Linked DNA regions of Homo sapiens. The protein of the gene in region 1 interacts with the protein of each later gene in a biochemical or structural test. Each region holds a gene or a part of one and is shown on either strand. Other genes may lie near its edges.

Region 1 (17,782 bases):
ACTTTCAAATTAAGTAAAATAATGTATGGAAGGTATTTTGTGAAGCCCCTCTGTCACTTAGATCTGGTTAAAGGAACACAGCAAATTCGATGAGACCTAGCTTGAAATCCACCATGCAGATAATGTATGGAAGGTATTTTGTGAAGCCCCTCTGTCACTTAGAACTGATTAAAGGAACACAGCAAATTCAAAGAGACCTAGCTTGAAATCCACCGTGCAGATACACGTATTCAAATTTGAGTTAATGTCCCAATTTGAGCTCTAGTGGCCTAGAAAAGAAGTTTTAATTTCCTGCTAACCAAACATTCTTAGATGTCTTTAAGATAGTATAATTTATTGGACAAACCACCAGGTTTATTCATGCAGGCCAGTACTCCATCCTGAGTGAGTGACTGTGGTAGCTTAAAGGATCTCTTTCTGTCTCTATCTGCCTGTCTCATCTCTCTTTGTCTCTCTGTCTCCCTCTGTCTCTATCTCTGTTTTCTCTCTGTCTCTCTCTCTCACTTTTTCTCTCATCAATGATATCAGACCAGTCACCACCTTTCTAGACTTCAGTTTTCTAAACTATAACGTAGATCATCTCTAAGGTAGCCTTTTCACTTCTAATTTCCTATAATTCTAACATCTGCTTGTGTTTTTATTATAAGTGAATTTGGAAAATGAGATTCCAATTCTACAAACTAAAGTAGATTGTCTGCATTAGGCAACTATTTAAGATAAATTTAAAGAGAGAGGTTCCAAACACCACTTCTCATGGCCTCCATAAAATAACATGGGAATTCAACTCCAGCCTTTGAAATTCTTTTCAGATGAGGGTGAAAGTAGGTTCAAGGAAAAACAGCACAGCTCATGAATGCATACATTCAGAAATAGTGCAGAAGAAGCATGTCTCAGGCACCCTGGTATAAAACTTGCCATCAATCACAGAATGTTGTCAGGAGAGGCCTCTGAAATTTACATTGGTAAAAGATCTAAAAGCCAATACAATATATGTTGTTGTCCACACTGGACTTTCAGAAAGGTTAGGGAATGAATAGCAGAGCAAGTCAAACAGAAACACAGGTCCAGAGCCCTGGGGAATGGACAGGCTTCCTAGGAAGGGCCTGTGGCAGTTATAGGACAGACAGGCCAACCCCGGAGATCCAGGGAAATGTGAGGCAGGAAGAGCAGATGTAGAATAAACAGCATTGACTGAGTTCCCAAACTCCAAAGCTGCAGAATATCCCATGCCTTTCTTTTTGTTACATACAACTAAAGGAATCTAAGTAGAACACAAGTTACAAGATTATACAGTAACAACCAGATGACAATTGAAGCAGGCAGAAGGGAAGGATCCACAAAGACATTCTTAAGGGCGGGGACAAGAGTCCAAGCACGTGTCCCAGTGTTGAGCAAACATTCATGTATTCAGTCAGTCAATGAATATTTATTAATATTTATGTCTATGTGTGAAAATGTGCTGGATCTTTGGTTATCGACAGTATTTCACATTGCCCCATAGGGTATTTCTATGGTTTCTGTAGACAGGGGGAAGTCCAGCAGACCTATCCCAGTGTGAAACTAGAGGAGAAATCTGGCAGTTTCTATCCGAGAATTCAATATGGTAGTCACCAGTGAAGTGTGGCAATTGAACCCTTGAAACGCTGCTGGTACAAATTCTGATGGGGTTTAAGTGCAGAACACACACCAGATTGTTTTTAAAAATGTAAAATAGGCCAGGCACAGTGGCTCACACCTGTAATCCCAATGCTTTGGGAGGCCAAGGCAGGCAGATCACGAGGTCAGGATCTCAGACCAGCCTGGCCAACATAGTGAAACCCCGTCTCTACTAAAAATACAAAACTTAGCGTGGCATGTTGGCACGTGCCTGTAATCCCAGCTACTCAGGTGGCCGAGGCAGGAGAATCACTTGAACCTGGGAAGTGGAGGTTGTGGTGAGCCAAGATTGCGCCATTGCACTCCAGCCTGGGCAACAGAGTGAGACTCCATCTCAAAAAAAAAGGCTGGGCACCATGGCTCACGCCTGTAATCCCAGCACGTTGGGAGGCTGAGGCGGGCGGATCACCTGAAGTCAGGAGTTCAAGACCAGCCTGGCCAACATGGAGAAACCCCATCTCTACTCAAAATACAAAATTAGCCGGGCATGGTGGTGCATGCCCGTAATCCCAGCTACTAAGGAGGCTGAGGCAGGAGAATCACTTGAACCCAGGAGGCGGGGGTTGCGGTGAGCAGAAATTGTGCCAGTGCACTCCAGCCTGGGCAACAAGAGCAAAACTCCTTCTCAAAAAAAAAGTAAAATATCTCATTAATAAATTGGATGCTGATTAACAATATTCTATGTGTATTAAGTAAAATGAATTATCAAAGCTTATTTCACCTGTTTCTGTTTCAAAATATGTAGCTATTAGAATAAATTTAATTAAACCTGAGGCTTAAAGTATATATCTTTTGGAAGGCACTGATCCAGTCCAGTGTTTCTCAAACTTTACTGTGCGTACAGTTCACAGAAGAGTTAGGTTAAAGGCAGATCCTACGTCAGTGGGTCCGAGAGGGGCCCAAGATGCTGCGTTTTCAACAAGCTCTCAGGAGACACCCATGGCTCCTACATCTATCACAAGAATAAGATGAAATAGAAGACAAAGGCCTTTCAGTCCATAATTGGGAAAGAGAACACCTGCTGTGTAGTGTATTAAAAGAAAAACAGGAATTGTCCTTTATTACAAATGAATAAGACCACACATCAAAGAAACATTGTTAAGATATTTCTCCTTGCAAAGTTTCTTCCAGCTTGATATCACAAAAGGGTTGGTAACTAACTATGCCATAAAGTTTGTGGGGTTTTTTAGCCTACTTACTTGTTTCATTTCTGATAGGATTTGGACTGTGGTGCAATTTATTTTGTTTCTGGAGTCTAGAGGATTTTGCATTTGCAGCTGAGAGAGAAACAAGTTTTGGAGCCAGAACTCATCGGATTTGTGCGGAGCAGGGCCACTCCACACAAAGGCTCAGAAGATGGTAATGAATGAACAAGACCACTTCTCAGAAAGCAAACAGGCCAGGGTTTGGGGTGAAGGGTGGCAGCAGATCCATGATGAGAGGTAGAAAAGGAGAAACTGTGCCGGAGCTTGGGCTCTTACCTTGAAAGACCCAGGGTTTAGGTATCTGTGTGTGTGTGTGCCTTTGTATTCTGTGTCTGTGTGTTGTATCAGTGAAAGCTCTGAGATATAAACAAAGGAAACCAACAGGCTCCTTTCAGCAGAAAAGGCCATTTATTAACAAGATACTGGCATCTTGCCGAATGCTCAGGAGTGGAAGATGAGGACAGAGGGCTGAGGCCATTTCTAATGTCCAGGCCGCTGAGGGGGTTCCCTCAGAACAGCTCCAGCGCCTCCTCCATTCTTGCACTCACCGGAGAAGCCTTCTCCACCTGCCCAGGCTCTCAGGGTGTGACCTTCCTCTGTGAAGCATCAACATGGAGTAAGTGTCTGCTATTTTCATCCCATGCTGCCCCACATCAGCACACATCCCTAAAAAGCACTTATGCATCTTAACTCAATCCTCTCCTGAACGAGATCATTCCCCCAGTTCTTAGAAAGGAATGGCTTGATTCTCTGTGCTCAGCTCCCAGTCCAGGATTCCTAGCTTGTGCCCACTTCTTCTCTATTCTGCTACAATTCCATGTCAACATGCTTCATACTATAGGCCACTATCACCTTAAAATGACAGGGGAAAGAGAGAAAAGCAGAAAATTAATTCAGTTATATAAAGATGTACATGACCCAGGAAGGAAGATAAATGCAGTTAAATATTCTAAGCCTTTTGTCTACAAGGTGAGCATGAGCATCTTCCTGGCTCTGTCCCAGGCTCTCTGCATCCAGCCGGCTCCTCAGCTGGTCAGAGGTGCTCACCTTGTAGGATGGCGTCTGCAGTGAGAGAGATGAGTTCTCAGTGTTGGAAGCTCTAGTCTTCCTTTGGCTGTTATGACTGAACCTGGCATTATTGAAAGATGCCCCAAGAATCTTCTTTTTGCTTTCAGGTTAGTCATTAGTCCACCAAGATGCCATATTTAAGATGAAAAAATGAGGGGCTTTCAGTTCATGGCCCTGAAGTTAGAGCGGGGCCCTCCCCGTGTAGCGACCCCTGTATTCCTTTGATAATCTGGGTCAATCCCTTTACTGAACACCTAACCCCTATGCAACCTGCTCCCACAGTAGCCTGAGCCTCCAAAAAGAGGAAACCAGGAGTGGAAGGCAACGCTTCTTGCCTTTCTGTTTAGAAACATAACCTGGCCATTCCCCAAACAATCAGATTCCAGTAACTTTATAAGGTGCAGACCCCTATATTTTTGTTGAATTCACTTTCTGATCTCTAGCAGGTCTCTATTTTGTCAAGAAATGTAGCGTGAACACTGGCCCCTGTTCTCCAGGTTCTTGCAGTGTTCTATCATTGCTGTAGTGGGGCCACCCTTATGTCCTCTGGGCAGAGAGAAATTGTATTTTCTGCAAAGATAAAGAATTAATATAACCTAGGATAGGACAGTGAAGATGTGTTGTTGTTCCTAAAATAGGAAGAAATACTAATCTTGGTCTAATCCTTTCATTGGGATAACATCCATTTCCTTGTGGTTGGAGCTATGAGGATTTGCTGGAGTAGAGAAGCTACATTTGGAACTTCGTCCTCTATCAGCTCACCACGGTTCTCCAGAATCCCGTCTTCTGTGCTAGCCCCACCAAAGAATGAAAGACCAGCATGCCTTCCGTTATCACCACTGGCAACTTTACAGCTATCATTTCCCCAGCAATGTCACAGTACTTGTTACATATGTAACAAACCTGCACGTTGTGCACATGTACCCTAAAACTTAAAGTATAATAATAATAAAATTATTATTTCGATTTACTATTTTGATAGTCCATTTATTAGGGATCCAGGGAGGGGATTCTGCTGGCTATTGAAAATATCTTTTTTTTATTATTATACTGTAAGTTTTAGGGTACATGTGCACAACGTGCAGGTTTGTTACATATGTATACATGTGCCATGTTGTTGTGCTGTACCCATTAACTCATCATTTAACATTAGGTATATCTCCTAATGCTATCCCTCCTCCCTCCCCCCACCCCACAACAAGCCCCGGTGTGTGATGTTCCCCTTCCTGTGTCCATGTGTTCTCATTGTTCAATTCCCACCTATGAGTGAGAACATGCGGTGTTTGGTTTTTTGTCCTTGCGATAGTTTTCTGAGAATGATGGTTTCCAGCTTCATCCATGTCCCTACAAAGGACATGAACTCATCATTTTTTATGGCTGCATAGTATTCCATGGTGTATATGTGCCACGTTTTCTTAATCCAGTCTATCATTGTATGTCACTGTGTCTGGAGTGCAGTGACATGATCATAGCTCCCTGCAGCCTTGAACTCTTGGGCTCCAGTGATACACCTATCTCAGCTTCCTGAGTAGCTAGGACTACATGTGGGCACCACTACACCCAGCTTATTGAATATATGGTTTTCATCTCTGCCCATAGGAATTTTGGGGAAATGAAGGGAGGGTTTAAGGCCCCACTGAGCATGCATCACCAGCCTCACTCCCTGTACATCTCTCTCAAGTGGACCACTTGGTATTCTGGGTTCCCAGAAGTTGAGGCAAGCCAAAGTCCAATGAAGCCCATGAGTTAGGGGCATTTCTGTTTTCAAATACAGAATTACTCTGACAAACGGCTGTAGGGCCATCTGGGAAAGGACATTTATGTTCACGATGTTACTGCAAGATCATTCTTTAAAGGCATGTCTTCATTTTAGATATCCTGAGTCTAGAAGCCAACTTATTTCCGAGATTGGGTGAGGATCCTCAAATCTTTATGGTAGGACTCAGGTCCGACACCTGTGCACAGATACCAAATTTCTTCAGTTCCGTAAATCAAGTAGGAACTTTGTAGAACACCCATCTATTTCAGCAAATTATTCCATACGGTCAGGGCTGGCCATTTAATTGGTTTTCTACCATGTATCATGAGCTGACAAATTCCTGTCTTATGAGATGTTTTCTACCAGGAAAGATAACAAAACTGCTGTTTCTCAGAGATTGAGTTGTCTGCATTCTTAGTAAACACATGTGCCTCATTTCGTGTACTTAGTTACAAGTAAATATTCTGACTGAATTAAGCACACAAGTCAGATCTACTAGGATGGTTGAAATCTCAAACTTGGAGATTAGCACATTAGTGATAATATCTAAAAGTATATAGCACAGCTGGTTTTCTCAGGATGCTGCTACAACCACCATAAACCCTACACACTGCCACTCTTTCTCAATTATACTGCACAACCACCATTGCCATAGGAGAATCTTTAAGGAATATGGTTTTCTGTGGGATCAACACACAATTCAAAATCTAAATTGGGCATGTCATAATGGTGAATCGTAGGCCATGTGTCCATGTCTTTGCTGAAAGAGAAGTTGGAAAAATAAATAGCTTGTTATTTTAGTATCTAGAGTGAGAGGCAGTCCCTACCTACTAAGGAGGCTCAAATATTGGGGAGGGTTGGGATGTAGGAAGGAGGTTCCAATGCTGGAAATTCAGAAAGAGTGAAACAATTACTACAGTGTGGACCGGGCTGTACATCTTTCTCCTTTTGTTGAACCCCATCGTCTTCTCTGCCTCCATGTTTTTTTCTAGATTCTCTTTTCTGAATGATTTTCAGCACCAAAACTCTTCTAAATGAGCATGATAATTATTACTGTTTTCTGTACAGTGAAGAAAAATATAATTTTGAATAAAGTAAGTGGCTTTTTTTTTTAACTTCAGGGATGAGACCCATAAGCTAATTATAAAAATAAATAAAAATATTCTTATTGAGAACCTGATTTAGACCAGCACTATTCCTATGTACTCATAAGCTAAAAGGCATAAGTCCCTTTCTTCAAATAGCTTGAATCATTGCAGATACTAACCTGATAGCACAAAGAAATGAAATGCGATATAAAAACCCCAGATGCAAAATAGTTCAGAGACTGAGTCTCAAGGGTGTGCAGGTAATGTGGAAAGTTTTGTTGCAATATGCGTATTTTTGAATTTATTGGGCCACTGAGGGTGAAATGAAAGGTATTTACTTTCACAAAATTGCAGACATTTTATAAAATTATAGACTTTGAGTAGAATAAATACCTTCTATAGATTATCTTAGTTTGCTGGTTATAATAATCTAAACCAGCAGTACCCAACCTTTTTGGCATCAGGGACTGGTTTCATTCATGGAAGACAATTTTTCCACAGAACGTGTCGGGGTGGGGAGGTGTTTCACCTCAGATCATCAGGCATTAGATTTTCATAAGGAGCACACAACCTAGATCCCTCACACACACAGTTCACTATAGGGATCACACTCTCATGAGAGTCTAATGTCGCCACTGACTTGTCGGAGCTCAGGCAATAATGCTCACTTCCCCACCATTCACCTCCTGTGGTGCGGCCCAGTCCCTAAGAGACATGGACTGGGGTTGGGCACCCCTTACCTACATCTTAAATTCTCAATGCTCTTTTAGATCTCAGAATTATATTTCATATTTATATCTATATATTTTGCCAATAAATAACCAGTTCTATAAAATCAGGCCAAGTGATCTGAATACAGATGTTTTCAACTCTACCTGCTCCAGACTCCCCTAATATGGGTTTATACTGAATAGAATGGTCAGCCTGGGATAGCTGCAAAAATAACGCATGAGCTCTGAGGTTCATGGTCTACCCCTTGTGGTCCAGTCATTTCACCGAGATTACACAACCAAATTCTATCTGACCACAACTATTCTTGATACCTCAGCTCTTCTTCATGATATGTCTCCTAAATTTCTTTCTCATTATTCTATTTAGCAAATTAACCACCAACACCTTATTTCTTTTATCTATTTGCTATTGAGTCACTCTATAGATGTTTTGATTAGTTGAAGCTAATTCCCTGTAATGAAAATGGGTTCCCCATCCTTATCATTGATAAATTAATAAACCACCCCCTCTCTGATATATAGCTAACTTGGAAAGTTGTTCCCCAATACAGTGGCGGAGGGCTATGTTAGTGCCTGATTTTGCATAGTGTACACTCTGATATAGTAATATCTGGATTCCAGGTTTTACCAATTTACTACCCAACTATAGCAATTCTATGCTGTTTGCTCCAGACCTAAATTAATCTCAGACTCCCTTTAGATGTCACAGCTCTCCATCACTGGTGCAGACATAATTCTGAAGAAAAGGTCATGAAGTCATCGTCATGCTTTCCATGAAGGTCTAGTTCCCGGCTCCTCACCTGGTGTGCAACATGGCACCTGAAGAAACGTCACGGCTCCTTTTTGTTTCTGGTCTCATGATGAGACCAGAGTCCAGAGAACAGAAAGGAAAGAGATTGAACTTTCTATACTATGAGAGATCAATCTATCGTTTGTTAAAGTGATCAGCATATGTATCCTACAGTTGGAAATACATCCTAGGTTATAACTTGTGTGTATTTCCACACAAAAAATTATATGGGCTTTTTTTCTTTGTACTAAATTGGAGGACATACCCATTAGAAGTGGCAATATGTTCCAATTTCTTTTCTCTTACAAATAAATAAATACATACATAAATAAACAAAATTAATGACATATGTATTTCCTAATACCAAGGGCTTTAACATGTGGAATAAACTAATACATGAAGTACAAAATATATTAGAAATAATTTAAGGAGGCAGGTGACAGATACTTAGAGACAAAACATTTGGTTATACGGTTTAATCGCAAACTACAGATTTTTAATCTAAATGGTCATTTGAGTATTCCCCAGTTCTTCTACATCATAAAGGATTTTATGGTACCTTACTGCAGAGTACTCGATATCATTTTTGAAGAAATCATACTGTATCAAGTGAGCTACAATGTAACTGCAAAATGCAGACTGCAGTGTTGCTCTGCTGTGGCTCTGTGGCTTCATGATTCATTCATTTTTCCTCTTCTCTTGAGCCATTTGAGGGCTGGTATCTCAGCTCTAAAAGTCATGCAGAGAATGGGTGGAAAGAATACAAATGCTTCACTGGAGCCCGATTCAGGCTGGGGCAGTTGTTGTCAACACGATGAGGTTGAATGAAATGCAGTGACAGTGTGGTAAGGGAAGACGTGTTCTTTAATGCTGCTGGGTCCAGGGATGCCTTACCTTAAGGGTAAAACATTAGATACTATGCTTATCAACACAGCAGCCTGTCATTGCAGTGAGTTACACCTACAGCTTAAGGTAACCAAAGCTGTTGAAAGAATATTGTGCCTGCGTGTGTGTGTGCAGGTGCCCCATATCAAATATACATTCTGTTTTCATAGACATGCACAAATGTGTAAGAAAAACATATACATGTATAAATCTGTGATTTAAAATATTGTGTCAGTATTATTTACAGATTTCTTTCTTCTTAATGTAAGGTAAGGTATGTGGGGGTGAATTTTAACTAAGAATTTATTATTAACACAACTATGATAAACTCATAGGGAATGATTACATGAATATGTGTGTATATATGTGTGTGTACATACATATATATTCATTTAATTTGAACTTTATTTTTTTAAGTACATTTGGAATTCCTTGGAAGTAATAATATAATGTATATGTAAACGCCTAAATAATACCCAGGAGGTCACGATTTGACCTAAACACTCGCATTTGCGTGGGAATTTTATTGTGCTCACTTTTTTTTTAGAGGAATGCTTTGTCCTTTACAAAATGGACAAATACTCCCACTGTACTGCAGTTCCAGTTCTATAATCATTTTGGAGGCGCTCTTTACCCCGTGGTGACCACAACACGAAGAACCGTCCTTACCCACATGCTGCTTGCCTGGGGAGCTCAGGATCAGTGTCTTACACACAGAAGGATATATGCTCCCATTTTTTTTCCGCCGACTGTAAATGACTCCTATTCTTTGCTCCACAGAACATCCGATGTGGTGCCCAATCAGCTGAAAAAGCTGCACAGACGTCATTAGTTCCGTGTGTGTGTGTGTGTGTGTGTGTGCAAGAGAGAGAGAGAAAGAGAGAGAGGAGACTGCAGCTGCCTTGCCGCGTGCCGAGTGGAGTCTCCATTAGGGCAGCGCTATTGATTTCTGATTCACACTGCAGCAACAGGGCTAGAGCTCAGAAGAAAAAAAAATCACGTCTCAGAAACAGGAATTACAAAGACAAAAATAAGTAGATAGATAGTTTTATACAAAAATCAAGCATCTGTTACCAAAGGAAAGCAAAACTGACAATTTAGCAAAATTTAAAGACTGTTTATAACATAGAATAAGATGTATAGGAGAAGTAGAGTAAAATGAGTTTAGAAAAATTATTCGTTCTAATTTTTCAACCATTTTTTTGAGAGGTGATAATGGTCTAATTTCCAGAATGCCTTGAAAAACCCTGGAATACTCGGCAGAGGTGCTGCAAAGTAAAGCTTATTTGAGGGCAATCTTGAAGCTATGCCTGAGAATTTTAAACAACAAAATATCCAAGATTTATTTTTTCAATTGTGTTCGATTATTTTATTAGCTAGTAGCTTTCTCTGTTTTAATTCTCTGTGTTGCATAATATCTAGGATACAGTAACAGGCTGGTTGCAAATGCTCGAAACAGAAATAGGTTTCTTCATAGGCTGTGTTTCAGCATGTCCAACTGTGAGCCTGTGAAGCAGAGCATCGGAGTTCTCTCGAGGTCTGTTGCTTCAGATTTGGTTAGAAATTATTGAATCTGGAGTGTAAAAATCTTGTCTGGGCCTTTTAGGCAGCTTGATTTTAAAACTAGCCCTTCTGCCCCAAGACTTATCAACCGCCCCCCCACCCTGTCCCAAAAGAAAAGCTGAAGTAAGTTCAGTGTTAAAATAATGGTGCTGTCAGGCAGGCAGTCTGCATGTGAGCAGCAGAAAATTAGAAGAATAGAACCATCCATTCTCGTTTCCCCCCGCGACATGCACGCACACATACGTGCACACACACACACACACCACACACACACACACAGACAACACCAGTCAGTGAAGGGGGAAAAGGGTGATACCTTTTTAAAAAATGAAAGGCAGTAAGCCATTATTAGCAAGAGCTATATTGAGCATGCTTGCCAGACAAGCAGCAAAGCTGAGCTCCAGTTCCGCCCAGACATGTGCCTTGCCATTTTCATTTTAATCAGCCTGCTCAGGATGGCTGCTGATTCATTTTGCAGGATGTCCCCCTGGGAGCCAAGGTGGAAGCCTGAGGCGAGCTGCTATTGCATCAATGCAGCACATCAGAGCGAGAGCGCGGAGGCAGAGGGAGGAGAGAAAGCCTTCAGCACCGCATCCCGATTTCAATATGGCTAGTTAGAAGGTCCTGCATGAAACCGAGTCTATTGCAGAAAACATAATGAAAGGAAAGGAAAAGAAAAAAGTCACATTGTCATTTCATTATCCAACTATTCTCTCCCCCAACCCCTTCTTGCCACCAACAGACACACACACGTACACATTTTACAGTGACCATGAAAGATTTCAAGCCACTCTGTGGAAGTGTGTGTGTGTGTGTGTGTGTGTGTGTGTGTGTGTACTATTTACCTGGTAACTAGCTGGGGTGGTATACCTGATTTAGCTGGAGACTTTGATTTGTAGGACTGACAACCTTATTATGCAGTGAGTTTATTATTGATATTATTCTGCTCTCGGTTGCCATGGCCACCTTGTGAGAGACATTCAATTTTCTCTCTTCCATCATCATTATCTATGAGGCCATCTGTTGTGGAAAATGAATTCAGCCTCATTTGCATGACTGATAAGCAATTTTTTTTTTTATCTATTTAACAGAAGGTCATATGCCGGGGATTTGGAGCTTGTGAAAAAAAAATGTGGAAAAAAAAAAAAGCCTAGGAGAGGATGAGTGGGAGCGTGTGCATGGGGGTGTGTGGAAGTCAAACAGATCCCTGAGGCCTGCGAGCCTATCGCGCTGCATTTGTCATTCCTGCCCGGGCGACATTTTTTTTTTCCCTAAGCTACTGCACACTAAACAGTGAGAGAGCTTTTCCCTGCAGTCTTGTTGAAGCACCCCGGGTTTTTTGCTCATTGTTGGTGGGTGCATTTTAATTTTTTCATTCCCTGGACTATGGGTTATGATATCCATACTCACTGAAGACAAAAAGCCACCTTTTCTGCGTCTTGGTGGCATGCATGTGTCTCATCATCCTTTCAAACTTGTGGTGGAACAGGGTTTTCTTCCCTGTCTGTGTATTTTGAGCCAGCACAGTTACCAAAATTGAACTTGTCTTTCGCTTGTGAGCGGTTGTGGTCATTGTGAGGTACGTGATGTTCGTTAGGTTAATTTTTCGGGGAACTTAGTGAGCAGGATGTGTTTTACCGTAGCTCAAGGGCTGAGGCTGCTATTCCATTGTCTGCTCCTTTTTAAAGTTATTTTTACAGCATGGCTGGTAGCTGAAATGTTCCTGGACTGGAGGCTTTGTAATCCACAAAAAAATCTGTCTTTAAACTAAAATGGGTATTAGGTTGCATGACTTAACTGTGATGTTGTTTATTAAGAAAAAAAGAAACAAAAACAAAACGGGGTGCATGTATGGTGTTTGGAGGATAAGAGGATACTGAAACAAAAACTTCCCAGAGACTTTACTGGATTACTTTACATTACAAATGAAGCACATCATTTTATGCAAAGGCAATTAAAATGTTAGCTATTTTGGATGAATTTACCTGATGGTAAGAAGAAAGTTGATTTATATTGTTTAAGTGGAGAAACTCAAATAAAGATTTTTAAATTTAACTTAAATGTTTGAAGTTCATAATAATGAAAGAAAATGTTATTTATAACAGAAATATGTCTTTTTGTAACACCTAAATTAATAAACTAAAAGATTAAACTCTACACTTTAGTTTTAAGATAGATCTGAATAAAGCAAAAATATATATGTAAATATTTATATGAAAGTTAGCTATATAAAATATAGAGAACAGATTTTGAATTTAGTATTAACCATGACAATTTCTTGTACCATCAAAGCTATATAAGCTAAATAATTTCTAAGTTACTTAGAGTAAAACTATTTTATATAAGAGCCTTTTTGTTCAAATGTTTATATTTTCTACTAAACAAAATTAACGTCATAGACCAAAGCATCCCAAAACCACCCTTACTGGCATATGAGGGTCTTTCTAATTGTTCATCTTCATTTAGTGTCATGTAGCTTTAAAAATAATAAAGTCATGTCTCCCATACAGATAAAAATGTAATTATTTTTAAAAGAAAAGAGTTTTATAAAATATTCCTTTTCAAAAAAAAAAACAGCATTGCATTCCTATAAGTTTTCACCTCTCAAGAACTTTGAATCCAAAGTGTTGATTGTAAGTTATAAATGCTACTAAGAGAAACATTCCAGAAAAAAAGGAAGTTTGTTTTTTCTGATTGACCTAAAAGAACATGTATGATTCTATCACCTCAAATGCAGTAAGTTAATTGCTTAAAAGTCTCCTTAAAGTTATACTTGAGTGATAAATTTTCTTTATTAACTAACATAGACCACTACTGATGTGTGTGTGTGATGGTACTTTACTTGATTGCACTTTGAAAACTCTTACCATACTATCATACACTTTTCATAAACAATAACAGTTGTTATATAATCCTTCTGCTTTTAATCAGCCATATTTCTTTATATTTTAGCTTGATTTTCAGAGAAATAAGTTTATTTTAAATATTAATTGTGCATTTAAAGAATTTAAAACAATAAAATTCTGATAGATTATGAAGATTATTTAAAGTGACATCAGCTTTCTCAGAGGACTATAAGAATCAGTAATATGAGATCTGGATCTATATTATAATATGAAGGATTATGTTGTTGTCTTTTGATCTGTACATATAGTCTTCAGATTCGTGAATCAAAATTATCAACATCTAAAAAAACCTATGAGATAGCACAGTTGATTTTTCTCTCCTCCCCACCCCCACCCACAAAAAGTTAATTACCAATCTTGGTTGGATTCTTCCTTGCCTCCCTGACATTTGACTGCTGCTAATTCACTGATTAATCTCATTAATGTGATTATAGTAGGATTTAGAGTTGGCTGCCATTGTTCTGTAGACAGTGCTATTCAGGCTGAGCACTTGCCACCTCATTCAGTTTTGCTGTGATTTTTCAAAGGCTGGTGGAGTGAGCTATTGTGAGCAGGCTTCTCTGCCTTCCCTTTCAGCACCAGGAGCTGTCCGCAGCTGATAGCGATTGCATTCAACAGTGACTGACTTCCTCCTAGTTTATTGGCAATGTGAAAATGGCTCACTTTCATCACCTTAATGATTGTGCTAGTTGAGGTAGAAGTAGGAGAAGCCTTCATGGTCACATTTGGATGTTTTGAAGATGGTGGCAGCAAAGATATCTATACTTGAACATTTTTATTTAGTAAAGACTTTCCATCTGCCATTATACACATATTTTACTCTATTTCCAAATATTCAAACATATCAATATGTTAAAAATTACTTGTATATATGTATAGTTGTGGGTTGGAAAATTGTAAACATTATTACTTTTCAACTGGAAAATTTTATCCAAATACATGTAATTATTAATAAAATTCATCTTTGAAAAGATGCACCAGGACTATCTGGTGTCACAGTAAGGTAGAAAGTATGCATGACACACAAATTTCAACTTCTCTTGAGTTAAACTTGCATCCAACAGCAGAACTTATGCCAATTTCACAAATTTGTGTTAGAAGCTGAGATCAAGGTAAAGGCCCAATGATTTGTGACCACATATGAGTGGTGTACAAAAATTATTAAAGGAATATGAGTACCTAGTCTTCTTCGGGGTTATAAAAGCTGTCAAAGCATGACCTTAGGACTATGTGGATAGTTTCAGAGAATGAGACTTCTTTAATATGCTGTTTTCACTGTCCCTGTTATGTTTTTCACCTAATTTATTTATTTATTTTTTACTCTCTTGAAAATGTTTCTATTTTGTACCTTACTCTTGAATATACCCAATTATTTCACTGTCTGATGTTTTCTGTCTGCTTTCTGTGTCAATGTTTAATAGATTAGGGAAAAGAAATAAGTGATTATGCAATTTCAAAGATTTGTAAAGTTTTTCTATTTGTTACAATTATACTTAAAATTAAAAAATTGAGTTAATAATCTGATTATTTGTTCAGCTGCTTTTATAAATACTTTACATTTATAATTTTTAAAAGCCAATTACTTCTCTGTGAAAAATTAATTTTGTCAAGTAAATAATGTTTTCAAAGTCACATGCATAAACTAGATTTCCAACTCTACCTGTAAGCCAATTTAATTTGAGGGAGAGACATTATTTTAGAAATACATAATATACAATCTGAAAGACTTTGTTTACTTGTTATATATTTTAGTGGATACATTTTAACTTCAAACAACTTAAAGGTTTATTTACCCTTAAATATTTTATATTAAAAAAAACTCCTCTGTGGAATTAGAGGGACTAGTCAGATGCTCTTTGATAATGACCACTCTGCTTTGCACTTACAGTTTGGTTTGGCTGGGTGTCCCTTTTAGACCAGGGCTATAATTTTCAATCAATAACCAGTGTTTCCAATGCATGTTGTCCTTTGCCAGGAAGTCTACCTTGATGCAAAGTCTCACCAGAACTCTGTTCAGGAGGCAAATGAATGGTAGACTCAGAAAGAGAGATCTACAGTTTTGGTAAATTTTTATAATCTAATTACTCCATAGCGTAATTTGAGCGCAATGATGTTATGCATTTTCCTATTTCAAGTTTTTAAGAGTTCTTTTTTTGAATATCTTCTTTTTTATTTGAAAAGTTGTGTAGTATTCTTTAGAAAGGAGTAACTGAGGATAAACTTGAACAAAAACTTGCAAATAACATATTTTTCACCAAGCTAAGTTTCATCATACTGTATTCTGTACCACAACACAACACCTGACATTGATCTGCATTTCTTCCAAACAAAACTGAAGACAAAAGATACCACAAACTTGAAGAAGTAAATAGATGTAGGTTTGTGTTTGTGTGTGTGTGGTTGGGGGCAGTGTCATATCTACATATCATGGTTGCTGGTATGAAAAAGATATTTTAAATTGACATACCACCCCAATATTTAAAATATTGCCTATAGTGACCATAACTCATATGAAATAATACAAATATTCTACTTTTATAGTATTTTATTGCATGATTTTTTCTGATATTAGATTATTTAAAGGCAACAGCTATCCATTTTTTCCATCAGTGGGCTATTTCAATGCAATGTGGTTCTGTTTGTAATATCTTTGTGTCTTGTCTCTTCTCTCTCTTTCTCTCCACTTTCCTTTCTCTCTCTTCTGCCCCCTCTCTCTTTAACTTGGTCCCTGTTTGTCTGTTTTGCCACCCTCTCTTCTCTCTGTGTTTCTTTCACACCTGCATTGTTCAAGCATACACAGTGATTTTTCTATGCATGTTTCTACAATGGAAGTGTTTTTGGCTTTGACATCATAATGAGTCCTCAGGGTATCTGTAGAAGTAATCAGAGATGGCAGAGAAAATGTAAGCCAGGTGTTATAAAACTAGAAAGAATGCATGAATGCTTATTTATTAGATAGAGAAAGAGTGATAAGCATTGCTGTATTAGGCTGTTCTGCTAGGAAAATTTTCCTACCATGTACCTCTTTTAAAATAATCTCTGCTCCCCACGTGGTGATTATTGGAAAAGTTGGCGGGGGGGAATATTTTAGTCTTACTGTAAGGAGTATTGTGTTGTGAGAAGATGGAATGGTACAGGACATTCTCTTAAAGCTTTCCTTGCTTTCAGACTGCAGTGGTGTCTAGCAGGGCTCGATGGGAAGGGAATTGCAGCCTCTATAGTAACCAGTAAGTCTGGTCCCAACACATCAGGGAAGAGCTCGGTCTTCAGAGGAATTACCTCTGAGAGCTGGAAGAGGGTGTTCCTGGTAACTTGGGGCTTCTCTGTCAGTCTCCCCACGGAAACCACAGTCAGAGCTGTGCTCTGTGGAAAGCCTGCAGTGGCTGCTCCCTCGTGCTGTTCTGCTCTCGACTCTCACTCACTGTGGATAGTGGGCTGGTGGAGTGCGGGCGCCAGAGGGTAGGGGTGAATGGAATGGAAACACAGAGGGAACTGTGACCAGCACGTGCGATGGTCTCTCCACGGCAGACAGAGCCCTGCGTGGGTGAGAAGCAGACTGCGGAACAGGATTTGGCTTGATGGCCACCAGCTCTTCCACAAAAAGGTACCTCTTTCCTTTTATTGTAAAGGTTACATAGGATTTCTTTTTTTCTTAATTTGCCTGGTGGTTGCAGCTCCCAGTTCTTCTCTTAAGTACTTCAAAAATAGTTGTTTCTCCACCTGCCTGCCTATCTCCAGCTCTCATTTGATTGCATACACAACACTTCCTAAAGTCTCTTGGTTAGGCGTGTGAACGCGCCAACAATGGACCCTCTCTCAAAAGAGCTTCTCCTTCAGTGTAATGCCATTGTGGGCACTGCTATGTCTGCATGCTGCCCGGAGTTGTTGTTAAACATGAGTCTGTGTATTCAAGGCTAGTTTCCTGGGGCGAGGGTGGGAGGTGCTAAAGTAGCCTTTATGATTTAACGTAGCCTTTCATAGCGGTGAGTGTTATAGGAGAGAGGTTTGCAGAGAGTGAAACGGTATGGTCACCACCAGAGTAAAACATCTGTGGCTTGACTCAAGAAGCCATTTATAAAATCAGCACTTTTTTAAGCCAGAAAAAAATGCTAATGAACATCAGGTATCTAT
Region 2 (15,050 bases), on another chromosome or scaffold:
TTCAAACAGTACAGGGTCTATTTTCAGTTATTCACTATGAAATGAGAACATTTCACAGTTGTTAAAGGTTGCTTTCAGAAGAAAAGCCCAACTGATGAATGTTTTTAAAAATGCACTATTGAGAGCGAACAACAGACTGGATGCCATAATTTTATAGTCAAGTTTGGGACAAGTTTTAAGAAACTGTGTTACAATTCAGAGAAAAGACAGTTGGTGAGCATATTAAGAGATATAGGGAACAGATTTAGATGATCCAATATGCTTATTATCAGAATTCCAGAAAAAGGCATGAAATCATAAAGAAGACAGAATACCAGGCAAAATTAATGAAAAAATATTAATCCAAACACATATAATAAAAAGTATCAATTTCAAGAATAAAAGAATTATATAAGCATTTAACACACATAAACATTGGTTACCTGTAAAAGGTGAAAAAAAAAAACAGGTTCAGATTTTCTGCTTAAATATCAAAGGGCAAATGGAACATTTTTACGATCACCTAAAATTCTTGAAATAGGCCAAGATTTTTCATATACAAAGGCAACAGCCTTCTTGCCACAACTAAGTTCAGTGTACAAGGGTGCATGGACTCTTCCTGAAAGAAATTACTAGAAATAGGATTCTGTATGATAAGAGATTAATCTACTGAAGATCTTAAGAATGGGAAAGATGTGATATGAAAGAAATGGTGGTAAGCAGTAAACCAGTAAGACTCAGGATGAATGTCAAAATAATTGTAATTTTCTGAAACAACCAGAAAATCTTAATTATTAATAGAAGTTACAAGAAAATGATCTGGACTTAAAAGTCCAGGAGGTTAAGATAGTATAAAAAGTATATATATGCAAACTCTGTTAAAAAAAAAAAGTAAAAGATATGTTCTGCCTTTAAAAAATTGGTGGACCTATTGGCCGGGCATGGCTCATGCCTGTAATCCCAGCACTTTGGGAAGCCAAGGTAGGTGGATCACTTGAGGTTAGGGGTTCGAGACCAGCCTGAGCAACATGGTGAAACCCCGTCTCTATTAAGATACAAAAATTAGCCAGGTGTGGTGGCACATGCCTGTAATCCCAGCTACTTGGGAGGCTCAGGCAGGAGAATCGCTTGAACCCGGGAGGCGGAGGTTGCAGTGAGCCAACATCATACCACTGTACTCCAGCCTGGGCAACAAGAGTGAAAATCCATCTCAAAAAAAAAAAAAATTGGTGGAGAGATATATACTGAAATGTGAGTTGTTTAGAAGTGATGAAGATGTATGTGGTTTTTTTTTTCGCTTGTTTTGATATTTTGTTGTTTTTTTTGTTGTTGTTTTTCTTGCTATGAGCATGTACTGGCCTTGGAACAAGAAGACAAGCCAAACATTAAAAAAAATATGATTTTTAAGGAGATGTTAATAGGTATTGTTACAGGTTATTGGTATTAGTGACCTGATGTGATAAGTGGGGAAGGTCCTATGATATTGGCGGCAGTTGGCCTTGTAATGATGGCTGAAGAATACAGGAGTAAGTGGGTGCTGACAGAGCTGGTGTGCATAAAAGGAGGCCTAGTGGGAGAAGACTGATTCACTTGTTCTGGGTTTGAGCCCTGTAAACTGCTGTAATGAGGCTCTTTGGCTAAGTGGTGGCAGTGGCCAGCTGCAGGAATTGTGTAGGATTGGGAAAATGGGGGTTGCCACCTACAGTGTTTTTGTCGTTGTTGATGTTTATTTCACTCGAGGCCCTTTTTCAGTAAAGTCATCACCTGGCCTTGGTCCTGTGGAACTGGCAGCTGTCATTGCTGGACCAGTGTGCTTCGTCTGCATCTCACTCATGTTGATGGTCTATATCTGCCACAACCGCACTGTCATTCACCATCGAGTGCCAAATGAAGAGGACCCTTCATTAGATCGCCCTTTTATTTCAGAGGGTACTACGTTGAAAGACTTAATTTATGATATGACAACGTCAGGTTCTGGCTCAGGTAACATAATTGTTTCTCCTTTTTCCTAAGACATCTTTTTAAAATTAAGCGATACTTATTTTATTAGTTTTCTAATAAGCCAACTTGCTAGAATGTGAGATAGTATAAATAATATTGCAGGTTTGAACCTAATAAAAATCTTTAAGCTTGATGTATATATGACTGTGGCTGGTTTAAAATAGATTGGAACTTAACTTTAACTGTTAAAGCGAATCAATAAGTCAGCTCCATGGTGGTATAAATTTCAAAGCGTTCTCACTTGTATAATCTAATTTGCTTTTCATCACTGTGAGGTAGAAAGGATAAGAACAATTATTCTCATATAGATGAAGCTGAAGGTCAAAGATATTCACATGATCTGCAGCTAACCCATTCTATTCAGGATTGTTTAGCAGCTTGATGTTTACATTTGAAAACAGGCATGACAGAAATGTATTCAGAATTGTGAAGGTTATTTACTTTTTAAACATTATATGAAATTGTCTTTCGTATAGGCCTGGTTTTTTAAAATTAAACTAATGAACTCTTATGTCATTTTCTCACTTGAGAAAAATGTCTAACCACCTTCTTATTTAATGTAGTTTTGGCCCCTAATGACGTTTTCTTTTCTCAGTTCTATTTGTTGATATTTGTGGCATCAGAAGTAGATGAGCTAATTGTCAGAGTCATCCCAAGGTGGATTTTGGCATAGCAGTGCTTCATGTTTAAACTGAAAGGGGGTTATCTTTTACTTTTTCTTGCATGTGGTTTGGAAAAATATTAAGAGAGGAACACTCCTATCCCCTGTGTTTTTAGAATTTGACACTTGGTGAAGAATAAATAGATCTAGGTTTCAAGGCAAGCTTTGTCATTGATTGGCTGTATAACCTTGGTTAGAACATGTTTCCTCTTTGGGCTTCTGTTTCCTCATCAAAAATATGGAACCCATACTGTTGATAAAAACACTTCAAGTGGTTTGTTAAGACTTTTAAATGAGATGTACTATCCTTTGAAAAGTATGAGTCATCTTCAAATAAGGGCTAAATTCATGAATAAAGTGAAAATTTGTAAAGCGTATATAATGAAAATTTCACTAATTTTGGTGAAAGCCCATCTCTATTAAAAATGCAAAAAAATTAGCCGGGCGTAGTGGCATGCGCCTGTAGTCCCAGCTACTCGGGAGGCCGAGACAGGAGAATCACCTGAACCTGGGGGGTGGAGGTTGCAGTTAGCTGAGATCGCACCACTGCACTCCAGCCTGGGAAACAGACTCCATCTAAAAAAAAAAAAAAAAAAAAATTTTCACTAATTTTATAATTGAGTGATATTAAAGGAATGTTAAAGCAGAAGTTGTGACTGGGTAAGAATATAATTCTGAAGCATAAAATCACATCTAATGTTGCAGAAAGCTCATATAATGACAAATGTCTATTTATTTTAAGGAAATGAATATATATTGGTATGTATGCATATCCATTCATTTAAGAATGAAGAAACTGATTTTATTACCTGAATTATTCTTCTATAGAATTTGGCCATATGTATTCAATAAGAGAGCTCTCTCCTTGACTACTAGGACACACACAGGCTCGCACTGGAGCTCACGTCCCAGAAGGCAAGCTTAGGGATTCCTGAAACAGTTGTGCAAGGAAGACAATGAGAGTTTGGACTTAGATGAAGCAGTCTTAGTACTGAAGGTGTGATAGTCTTTAGGCAGGCCTGGTGGACAGAGGTTATTTTAGAGCTTTCCTGGGACTTCCCATTTATTCTCAGTTCAGATCTTCAAAAAGATTTTGCTCATTCTGGAAGTCATCCTGCTCAAAACTGTGATAATCAAGGACCAGAGTCACAGAAAATCAGGATGGCTACAGATATTTGGAATTAATCCCTCAAACCTGTTCTCTTGTTTCTAAACTTATACTCCGGAAAGACACAGCACTCATGCCACTTGCCACAGTGGAATAAGCCCACCTAACTGATTAAAGGAATTGGTGGGTGGGTGGCAGTTGATTACTGGATAAGAATATCTTCATTAACCTTTTAAGATATAAACATGAGAAACAATGGAATAATTCTGTTTCCATTATATATATATATATATATATATATATATATATATATATATATATATATATTTCTAGATCCATGAGGGACCATAGCTCTCTGTTCTCTGAAAGCTTCTCTCCCTCCTTTGATGCCTTACCCTGCAAAAACTTGTCTGCATTGCTTGCTAGCTCTGTGGCTTTGGGCAGTTAACCAATGTCTCATGCTTGAGTTATTTCATCTTTAAAATGAAAGTGATGGATTCTGTGCACATCATTGGATTGTTGTGAGTTCAAGCAAGACAAAATGTTTGCATGAAAGCACTTGGTAAATTGTAGAGTTATGTCCAAATGACAAGTGTTACTCTTATTGAAAACATACTTGGAGGAAAAATCTAACATACAGTATCAGTTGACCACATTGTACAAAACTTAGTTTAAGGCCTCCTTTGCCTGTCATAGTTCATTGTGTACTGAATTCCCTCCAAACCTATCCAGGCAGAAGCCATCTTCTGGTGAATAATAGCAGAAAATGCCATCTGTTTCCCTTCTATTCATTATAAATCCTTAATGCCACCTTAGGCATGAGACTAGTGCCTGTGAATAAGTAAACTGTGTGTTTGTAATACTCTGTTTTTAGTTCTTTCATTAATTGAGGAAAAGGTATAAGCATTTCACATTCTGAATTCATATGTTTATTACTTAGTACCGTGACCATAATTAAGGAAAGGCCCTGTCTCTACCTCTAAAGACTGTGCTTTTAACTTGGGAACTTCAGGGAATACAATGAAGAGCTGGGTTCTGGCAGCTGTACGCCAAGTGTGTGAGTGTGCACATGTGCATATGTGCCAGCTTTTGTAAGTGAGTCTTCTAGGCCAGTGTTTGTTATGGCGTGTGCAGCTTATGAGCTCTTGTAATATATGCATGTTGTTCGGGTCTTATTTCCTGTTCACTGCATGTAAAGCTGTGGAGTCCCTGTTTCCCTTTTGAAGTTTTCTCTCAAACAGTTCTAAAGGTACAGAAGAGTAGAGCAGAGAATATAGAGATCTAAATTAGGCCTATTCAGTTTTGTCTTTAGAAGAAAATTGTTACTTTTTTTTTTTTTTTTTTTGGAGACGGAGTTTCACTCTGTTGCCCAGGCTGGAGTGCAGTGGTGGGATCTCAGCTCTCTGCAGCCTTCACCTCCCGGGTTCAAGCAATTCTCCTGCCTCAGCCTCCTGAGTAGCTGGGATTACAGGTGTGCACCACCATGCCCAGCTAATTTTTGTATATTTATTAGAGACCAGGTTTCACCATGTTGGCCAGGCTGATCTTGAACTCCTGATCTCTAGTGATCCAACCACGTCGGCCTCCTAAAGTGCTGGGATTAGAGGTGTGAGTCACTGTGCCTGGCCAATTGTTAACTTTTTAAAAATGCTCAACTATTCATGTGAAGTAATCCAATATAGATAATACAGTGGATCAAGATTTGCTTTTTAATTTTAATTGACATCTAGAATCCAGTGATAAAGGGGAAGACAAAACCTTTCCTCGTCCTGTTGGCCTTTCTTGACCATACCATTTACACAAGTCCTGAACCTGTCAGGTGTTTTCAGAATTTGTGTTTGTGATTCCTTTTTCTTTTTTATTACTTGTCTTTGCAATTTCCAGATTAGTCTCCTGAAATTAACTCTTAAGTGTACTTTTAAGTCTGTGGTGTGGCCCTCTACAAGGCTTTCATAAAATGTAATAAATTAGTATCTACACTAAACAACATAATTAGAATTGATTATACATAGTGCGAAAGAGCTCTATGATTTAAATAAGGATTTCTGACAGATCTGTTTCTAACTAGCAGCCTCCTTATAAACACAAACAGTTATTTATAGTTATACTGCTAACTACTTTACAGGAGGTGGGGAGGGTAGAGCAAGAGGAAGAAAGGACCCGTTTGAGAAACTTAAGAAGAAGAGCTTCTGATCGCTTTAAAGATTTAACGTTTGGATTTATAAGCATTTCACATCAGGGAACCAAAGAGAGCAGATAATTTCATTTACTGTCATTGGGTTAATTTGATCTAGTAAGCAGCTTTGAGTATAGATTATAAATGACACCAATTTATATGTACATAGATTGTATAAATAAGATATGAGTGAGGAACATGATGTACACTGGCATTTTCTTTGTTAGTGTCAATGTAATTTAAAATGACACTTACCGGATGGTGGATAGGATATTAAGTGATGGTCTCACATATAGTGCCACTTAAATGTTGCAGGTAAGTTAGTAAACCCTTTTAAATGAAGTAAGTATGGCAATACTTAAAAATACATATTTTGGAGAAAGCCAAGTTCCATTAGTGGAAAAACAGTGCTCCATTACCAAGGTAAGTTACTTAGCCTTGTTCTTCAAGATACTAGTGTTGTCTATGTAGCCAGTTGTCAGCAAGTAAATTGCTTTCCTTGAAATAGTTTCTGTGGTGATTTTTACTGACTTATCAAAAAGCCAGAATTTACTTCTGTGTTTCTGCGTTCACATCCTTTTTTCCTCCCATCAGTGAAACTGTTACGAGATTCATCTTTCTAAAATAAGATTTTAAAATTATCTTGCTTCCAGCCATGGCCCTTTTTCTCAGAAATCTTTAAAGGTTCCTCTTTTACCTAAAGCTCTTCATTGGTTATTTTGAGCTTGGTATTCAGTACTCTTCATCTTCTGGTGACAGCTTACTTTCTCTTTTCACTGCTTTGCCACATATATCCTCTCTCTGATTGCCCAAGCTGCTTCCCTAAAAATGTGTCATTCATTTCCCTCTACCTTTGCCTGCACATTCTTCCTGCCTAACCACCGTACTTAAGGGATAGTCAAAATTCAACTTACTTTTACAAAGCCTACCTTGACCCTCTAGCAGGAGTTTCTGGATTCTTTTATTATATTTATTATCTTATTTTCCTTTTTTAATTAGTTATTTTATTGCAAATATAATATCTCCCCAGTGAGATAAATTCCTAAAGGGATAGCTTAAAGTATCAGTTTTCTGGGTCACTCATTAGTGCCTATCATGATGTTTGAAACATGTAATATTGTTGATTGTGTTGAGTACTATTTATTTTTACCTTTAGGTTTACCATTGCTTGTTCAGAGAACAATTGCGAGAACTATTGTGTTACAAGAAAGCATTGGCAAAGGTCGATTTGGAGAAGTTTGGAGAGGAAAGTGGCGGGGAGAAGAAGTTGCTGTTAAGATATTCTCCTCTAGAGAAGAACGTTCGTGGTTCCGTGAGGCAGAGATTTATCAAACTGTAATGTTACGTCATGAAAACATCCTGGGATTTATAGCAGCAGACAATAAAGGTCTGTAACATTTGCTTTTCCTTATGTTATATATAACAAGATCTCTTTAAGTCTTTACAGATATGGTGACTAACCATCATCAAAGTAGATGAGACATAGATGTCTCTCATGTAGATTAGACCCATTAAGTCGAATACAATATATTAGTAACTTTTAGAACTAGGAACTTCTTCAAGATTTTCTTGACTCTTGATAGCATTCCTAAAATCTCTTAATGTTTTATAAAATATAAAAGAGCTATTTTAAAAAGCCATGTACTTTGTTGGTTTAGTTTAGGGCAGTTAGTTATTGAGAGTACTCATGATATAGAAAAGATATATAAACTTGCTCAAAATTTTGAGAATAGGGCTCAGATAGCTGTTTCCTTTTAATCTCTTCCTGACCAGTAGGATGTTTCAATATGGACTATTGACCTTATTAATGGGGAGAGTAAAAATAACTTGTCAGTGTTCTGAGTTGCCAAGGGCTAAATAGATGAATCTTCTGGCAAACTCAAAGAGATAAATTGTTTCTTCAACCACCCTGGTAACTGTACGGACACTTTTCTGCCTATCATGCTGGTGCCTGAGGCCCAGTGTCAGGTCAGATGCTGAAGAAGGAAGGAAGCCTGTCAGCAGGGAGTCAGAATGAGTGGGGACTGCAAGCAGTGACCTTAGACTGTGCTGCTGCCACTTTCTTAGCTTCCGTTAATACCTTTATGCCCATGATTCCTACTTTTTTTTTTTTTGAGATGGAATCTCGCTCTGTAGCCAGGCTGGAGTACAGTGGTGCAATCTCGGCTCACTGCAGCTTCTGCCTCCTGGGTTCAAGTGGTTCTCCTGCCTCAGCTTCTCGAGTAGCTGGGACTACAGGCGTGCACCACCATGCCCAGCTAATGTTTGTATTTTTAGTAGAGATGGGGTTTCACCATGTTGGCCAGGTTGGCCTCCATCTCTTGACCTCGTGATCCACCCACCTCACCCTCCCAAAGTGCTGGGATTACAGGCATGAGCCACTGTGCCCAGCCCCCACGATTCCTATTTTTACTGCCTCTGTCAGAGACTTGTGTTTCAGCTCCACTCTTGTCATCCCTACCCCTGAATCAAATGTATTTCCCAGCTTTCCTATTTAAAAAAAAAAAAAAATGCTGTCATTATCTCTTAGCTTGGCCAGACCTGTAGTCATCTTTTTCCTTCTCCCACCTTCCATTTACTTCAGCAATATTTATTTATTCAAATATTAACAGTGTTTAACCTCAGTTGGTAATTATGGGTGATTTTTATTATTTTTCTTTTAGCTTCTCTGGGTTTTCAAATTTATTTACAAGCATGTACTGCTTTTTTTTGTTATTGACTTTTATTTGTAGAAAATTTCCAATATGTAGAAAAGCAGAGTAGTTACAGTGATCCCTCATCGTCCAGCTTCAACAGTTGTCAGGTCACTGCCAATCATAATTGATGTCTGATCCCACCTACTCTGCCCTAACTGTGTTATTTGAAGCTGGTCCCAGACAATATGTTTTCATCTGTAAACACTTATAAAATGTAATTTGTATCTTCAAATGATGAGGAAATGTTTTTATGAAACAACCACACTACCATTGTCAGTTTTTTAAATGTTATCAAATATCCAGTTAGGTTCAATTCTATAATTGTCTCCTATTAAAAAAATTATTTATTCAAATTATGATTCTAAGTCCACAAGTTATATTTAGTTGATATTTCTCTTATGTGTCTTAAAATTTAGGTCCCCCCTTCATCTTTTTTCTCCTCTCGCAGCTTATTTGTTGAAGAAATTGGATTGTTTATCCTGAAGGGCCTATCACATTCTGGATTTTGCTGATTGCATTTCCATAGTGTCTCTTAACTTGTTCTTCTATCTTTTCTGAAAACTGGTAGTTAGATTTAGAAGCTAAACCTAATTGGAGTTTTATTGGTTTTCTCAAAATACATACTAAGGATATTATATACATCCTATTGCATCATATGTGGAGGTGTATAGTGTTTGATTAAGACGGGGCAGTGAGGTATATGATGAATGTAGGTAGCGATTATCAGTGGCACCTGACAATGTAATACCTCTTAAGTTAAAAACAAAACAGGCCGGGCACAGTGGCTCACGCCTGTAATCCCAGCACTTTGGGAAGCCAAGGTGGGTGGATCACGAGGTCAAGAGTTCAAGACCAGCCTGGCTGGCCAAGATGATGAAACCCCATCTCTACTAAAAATACAAAAAAATTAGCCAGGCATGATGGCAGGTGCCTATAATCCCAGCTACTTGGGAAGCTAAGGCAGAGAATTGCTTGAACCTGGGAGGTGGAGGTTGCAGTCAGAGCTGAGATCGCACCACTGCACTCCAGCCTGGGCGACACAGGGAGACTCTGTCTCAAAAAAAAAACAACAACAAAACAAAACAAAACAAAAAATAGTAATCAGTCTGACCAAATCCTTAGTTCTCATTTTCGTTTCTGCCTTTATCACCATTTATTTCCTCCCCCAACTCTTAAAACAACCTTTTCTTTATTTACTGTGTTTGATGACCCTAGACTTTCCTTGTTCCTTCTTACTTCTTCATAGTTGTCTTTGTTTTCTCAACTCTTACTCTTCTCACTGGTTCATATGAAGGTACTGATTTTATAAGTGGTAATTTCTTCCTTAAGAACATAGCCACATTCATGGTTTCAAACTCTACCATGTTGGCAACTCTCAAATCTCCATTTGAAAGCTTAAACCTCACCCAGGGTCTGGATTTTGTCACATTCCAAGTTACAAACACAGCAGCACAAAATGTTGGTGAGTCTGTGCCCTGAACTTCTAACCAGGCTGATGCTGTCATCTGGTGGTCACCATGGGAACTAGCTGACCCTACTGGCTCTTCCCTACTCCCCTTCTTTCTTCTTTGTCAGGGGTTAATGTACTTTCTCTGAGCCTAGCCCCTCCACCTCAGTTCCTTTATCTTCTCCTGATTTAGTTAATTCCACCCCCGGCAGCCCTTTATATTTATGGCCCCTTACATATAACCTTCCTTCTATCTTGTCCATAACCTGTGGTTTCCCTTTCTTCCATCTGCCTGTCTTCCACTTTGTTTCTTGTATTTGTGAGCTTTTCAAAATTCAGTAATGGTTAAGAGGCATGCAAATAAGCTAGTGATGTGCCTATATCAAGGAAAAGCAAGGGTGCGAGTTTGGTCAGAATCAGTTTATAAAGTTCATGAAGAACAAATTAATACTAAGTCCTTTTAAATGTACCCAGAAATCTCCTCCAGAATCTTCTGAAAAGTTTCTATTCCTTTCTTAATCTCTTCTAATCAGAGTTGGTTTTCTTCTTCAACCAAATACCTTCAAAATAGAAGCTGTTTCATGTCAATATGGATTTTTTCTTTTGGTTTACAACCAGCAGGGAAAGAAAGAGCACAGTTTATGTACTTCTTACCTAAAGAATCTAGCATTCCGTTTTTTAAATCTTAACAGTCTTACAAAGTAAGACTTTATTCTTGTATAAAAGGAGAAACAGGCTCCTTGTCAGTAACAGGCAGGCCGTGGATTCCAACCAGGTTAGAATGACTCTAAGCGTCCATCTTTTACTGGATTGTGCTGTCTCCTAATGTTGTAATGCTTTTTTTCTTCATGGCTTAATTAAGCATGTGGTTTTCCAGCTACTTCTAGGTTAAATTAGATTGTCGTGGACCAGTCTAGCTTAGGAGCCTAGCTAGTGTCTTTACCATTATTCCTATGAGAAAACATGTTTTAAACTCGTGTTTTGGCTTACAGAGGAAATTTTGGAACCCACGTTCCTCGTTGTTTGAGTTTAGTCCCAGCTTTTCCAGTTTTGCTCCTGACATTTCAGTTCCTATTTCAGCTTCCCCATGTGTTAGAGGTATCACTATTTCTGTTTTTCTAAGCTAGCAACCTTGGAATCATAATCATCTTGTCTTGCGTCTTTGTGAACTGTGTACACAATCTGTCACTAAAGCTTGTCATTTCTTGTTGAAACTCACTTTCAGTTTTGTCCCATACTCTTCCATTCCCACTGTGGCCACACTGGTCTCCGGAGACTTCTCACCTCCTTGCTTCCCTCTCTGTTCCTTCCTTTTTTTTAACCTTCTCTCCTTCCAGGAACAGCCACTGAGCACCCAACCCGACCCAGAGATTTTTCTAGGCACTTAAGAGTGCCAGCTCTGATACCAATTATCTGTGAAGACTCAAAAAAGTCACCATCTTTGTCTCTTAAATGGGATTAATTATACTTGCCTTATCTCAAGAAGAGGGGCTTACTCTGAGGAACTAAAGGATGTGTACATAAAAGTATAAAACAAACAATGTAGAAGAAAATGTGAAGGAAATACAGACTTAAGGTGGCATTATATTGCAGTGTGTGACTCAGGATTGAGAGTAAAAAGTAATAACCATTGAACAAATAAATCATAAATGGTCTGCAGCCCAACCGAAATGTTAATTCTGTTTTACAGACAATGGTACTTGGACTCAGCTCTGGTTGGTGTCAGATTATCATGAGCATGGATCCCTTTTTGATTACTTAAACAGATACACAGTTACTGTGGAAGGAATGATAAAACTTGCTCTGTCCACGGCGAGCGGTCTTGCCCATCTTCACATGGAGATTGTTGGTACCCAAGGTAATTCTATAAGCAGTTCTATTATTTAAGCTTTAAATTTTCATGAATAATGTCTATGAAAATAGAAGGTGGAGGCTGGGCCTGGTGGCTCATGCCTATAATCCCAGCACTTTGGGAGGCTGAGGTGGGCAGATCGCCCGATCTCAGGAGTTCATGGCCAGCCTGGGCAACATGACAAAACCGCATCTCTACCAACATACAAAAAATTAGTCGGGCATGGTGGCATGCACCTGTAGTCCCAGCTACTCAGGGGGCTGAGGTAGGAGGATTACCTGAGCCTGGGAGGTCGAAGCTGCAGTGAGCAGACATCATGCCACTGCACTCCCAGCTGAGTAATAGAGAGAGACCCTGTCTCAGAAAAAAAAACAAAAACAAAAACAGTAGGTGGCCTAACTGGAGATATTTAAAACAAATTTTTTAGATGAGAACATTTTATCTTTCAGTTCAAAATTTCAGGTAGAGCTAGGAATCTGGAAATTTGTTTAGAGATTCTCTAGTCGTTGTAACAAAACTGTGATTTTTTTTGAGTTCTTAAAAGTAGCATTCAATCTTATGATTTTTGAGGATCTCAGTTTCAGAATTCAGGTCCAACTGAATATATTTTTATGTGTAGTATCAAATGAAATGTGAAAGTGCTTTGTAAACATCAACATGCTAGGTAACTGTTATCTGGCCATCTAATAATTATATTTGACCTTGAGATAAGGAGACTGCATGAGATAGTTTTACAGTTGAAAAATTAAATACTAAGTTTTAGTTATGACATTTGTATGCTGTAGTTTTTGTGCATGTGGGATTTCAGATGCCAGTATATCTCTCTGCTCTAGCAGTTGTCCACTTGCAACCCAATGGCTCCCCCACTCCCCACTTTACATACAGCATAAGTGCTAGTTCACATCTTAGCTCCATCTTTGTAGTTATTATTATTATTGATTGTAACAGTTTTATTGAGTTATAATTCACATCATAAAGTTCACCCACTTAAAGTGTAAAATTCAGTGGTTTTTAGAATACTCAGAGTTGTACAGCCAGCAAACACTACAGTCAATTTTAGAATATCTTCACTCCAAAGAGAAACCCTGTAGCCACTAGCAGTCACTCCCCTTTCCTCCCAAACTCCTTAGCCCTAGGCAACAACTGCTCCTTTTTGTCTGTAGATTTGCTTATTCTGCACATTTTATATAAATGAATCATACAATATGTGGTCTTTTGTGACTGGCTTCTTTCACTTAGCATGTTTTCAAGGTTCATTTATGTTGTAGCACGTATGAGTACTTCAGTCATTTTGATGGCTAAGTAATACTTCAGTGTATGGATATGGCATATGTCATATATCCGTTCGTTGATGGACATTTGGTTTGTTTCTTTTGGCCATTGTAGCTAATGCTGCAGTGAACATTTGTGTACAAGTTGTATGTAGTTTCATGTTTTCAGTTATCTTGGGTATATACCTAGGAGTTGAATTACTGTATCATATGATAACTCTATTTAATGGTTTGAAGAACTGCCATACTATTTTCTTAAAGTGCCTGAACCATTTTACATTCCTGCCAGCAGTGTATGAAGGTTCCAGGTTTTCCACATTATAATTATTATTTTTTAATAACATTTTCTAGTGGTTAGCATCAAAGATAATATACTTAATACTGAGTACATTGCAGTTGATAGGGAAGTGATGTTCTACATGCTTGGTTCCTGGGCTGCTGGAATATCAGTCTATGGCTAAGTTTCTTAAAAAGAATTCATAAGGCACCAACAGATAAACTGATAACTTTTTTTTTGCCCCAGTCTTTGAGTTGTTCATCTTTTAAAGCATGTTATTGTCCACATTTTCTTTAAAGAAATATAAATTCAGTGACTTTTGGTGTAGTGATTCACTTGAGTTTAATAATGCCGTAAGTATTGTAGGTCATGTGGGCTGAAATGCTTTGATAATTTGGGTTGGGAGAAGAGACTTTTGAACCTAAAGATGTGAGTTGTGATTGGTATTACCTTTTAAGCAGTCATGTTTAATTTTTGATTCTTTAGGAAAGCCAGCCATTGCTCATAGAGATTTGAAATCAAAGAATATCTTGGTAAAGAAGAATGGAACTTGCTGTATTGCAGACTTAGGACTGGCAGTAAGACATGATTCAGCCACAGATACCATTGATATTGCTCCAAACCACAGAGTGGGAACAAAAAGGTATACTTTTGAACAACTATATTTAATATCTTCTGAAATCACCTTTTTTCCCTTCTCTTTCATATATACATATCATTGCTGAAACTCAGCTTAAACTTGCACTTTATTAGATTGCCAACAGGTAAGAAGATCTCATGGTCTTGCCTGCTCTGAAGCCAGAGTTACCTGACTTAAAAAGATGCCTGCTGATGAAAGGTTGCCCTTCCAGAAAATATCATTAGGCATGTTAATTATAATAACAGTAGTAACTAACGTTTATAGGGCACCTACTATGTGCCAATCGTCTAATAGGTCTTTTACGTATATTACCTCATTTAATCCCTTCTCAAATACTGTGCAGTAGCTAGCCCTGCTATTTTCATATTTCAGTTCCTAAAAATATGCCTTTCTTGCTTTCTTAGAACTTTTGCACATGCTGTCTCCTGGAGCATACTTTACCCTACTGTTTCTCAGCCTCATACCCACCTTTCCCGTAGGAAGTTTTTTCTAGTCCTCAAAAATCTTAGGAGTCCCTGCCAGGGACTGTCATAGCACACTGAACTGGGACCGTTGAGGCACTTATGCGTTATGTTGTAACTGTTTATTTATTTGCCTATATATTCTATTAGGTGCAAGCTGCTTGAGAGCAGCCTTGTATTCCCAGCATCCATCACAGTGCCTAATACATGGTAGATCCTCAGTAGATATTTGTTGAGTCCATGAGTCTTCAAAAGAACTTAATTAGGTAGGTGTTATTACCCTTTAATTCACAGATGAGGAAACCACCTTGAGGAGGTTAAATAATATGGCCAGCTTCATGTGGATGATAAGCCGAAGAGCTGAGATTTGAACCTGGGCATTTCTGACCCAAACCCCTTATCACAAGCTGTCACAGCATTTTTTCAAACTACTGTCTTGGCCTTGGAGACAGCTGGAGAGCCAGCAGCATTAGTCTATTCA

What was found.
Region 2: the proteins of MYT1L (region 1) and TGFBR1 form a complex in vitro, tested with the Homo sapiens proteins (one study listed by BioGRID).

The regions. Positions count from the first base shown.
Region 1 is NC_000002.12:2,325,509-2,343,290, reverse strand, and holds the start of MYT1L (myelin transcription factor 1-like protein), read left to right. Parts: upstream 1-12,015; 5' UTR 12,016-12,324; intron 12,325-16,182; exon of another isoform or gene 16,183-17,782. UniProt on the Homo sapiens protein: Transcription factor that plays a key role in neuronal differentiation by specifically repressing expression of non-neuronal genes during neuron differentiation.
Region 2 is NC_000009.12:99,130,778-99,145,827, forward strand, and holds part of TGFBR1 (TGF-beta receptor type-1 isoform 1 precursor), read left to right. Parts: intron 1-1,719; coding exon of another isoform or gene 1,720-1,731; coding exon 1,732-1,962; intron 1,963-7,081; coding exon 7,082-7,312; intron 7,313-11,758; coding exon 11,759-11,926; intron 11,927-13,954; coding exon 13,955-14,111; intron 14,112-14,719; exon of another isoform or gene 14,720-14,835; intron 14,836-15,050. UniProt on the Homo sapiens protein: Transmembrane serine/threonine kinase forming with the TGF-beta type II serine/threonine kinase receptor, TGFBR2, the non-promiscuous receptor for the TGF-beta cytokines TGFB1, TGFB2 and TGFB3.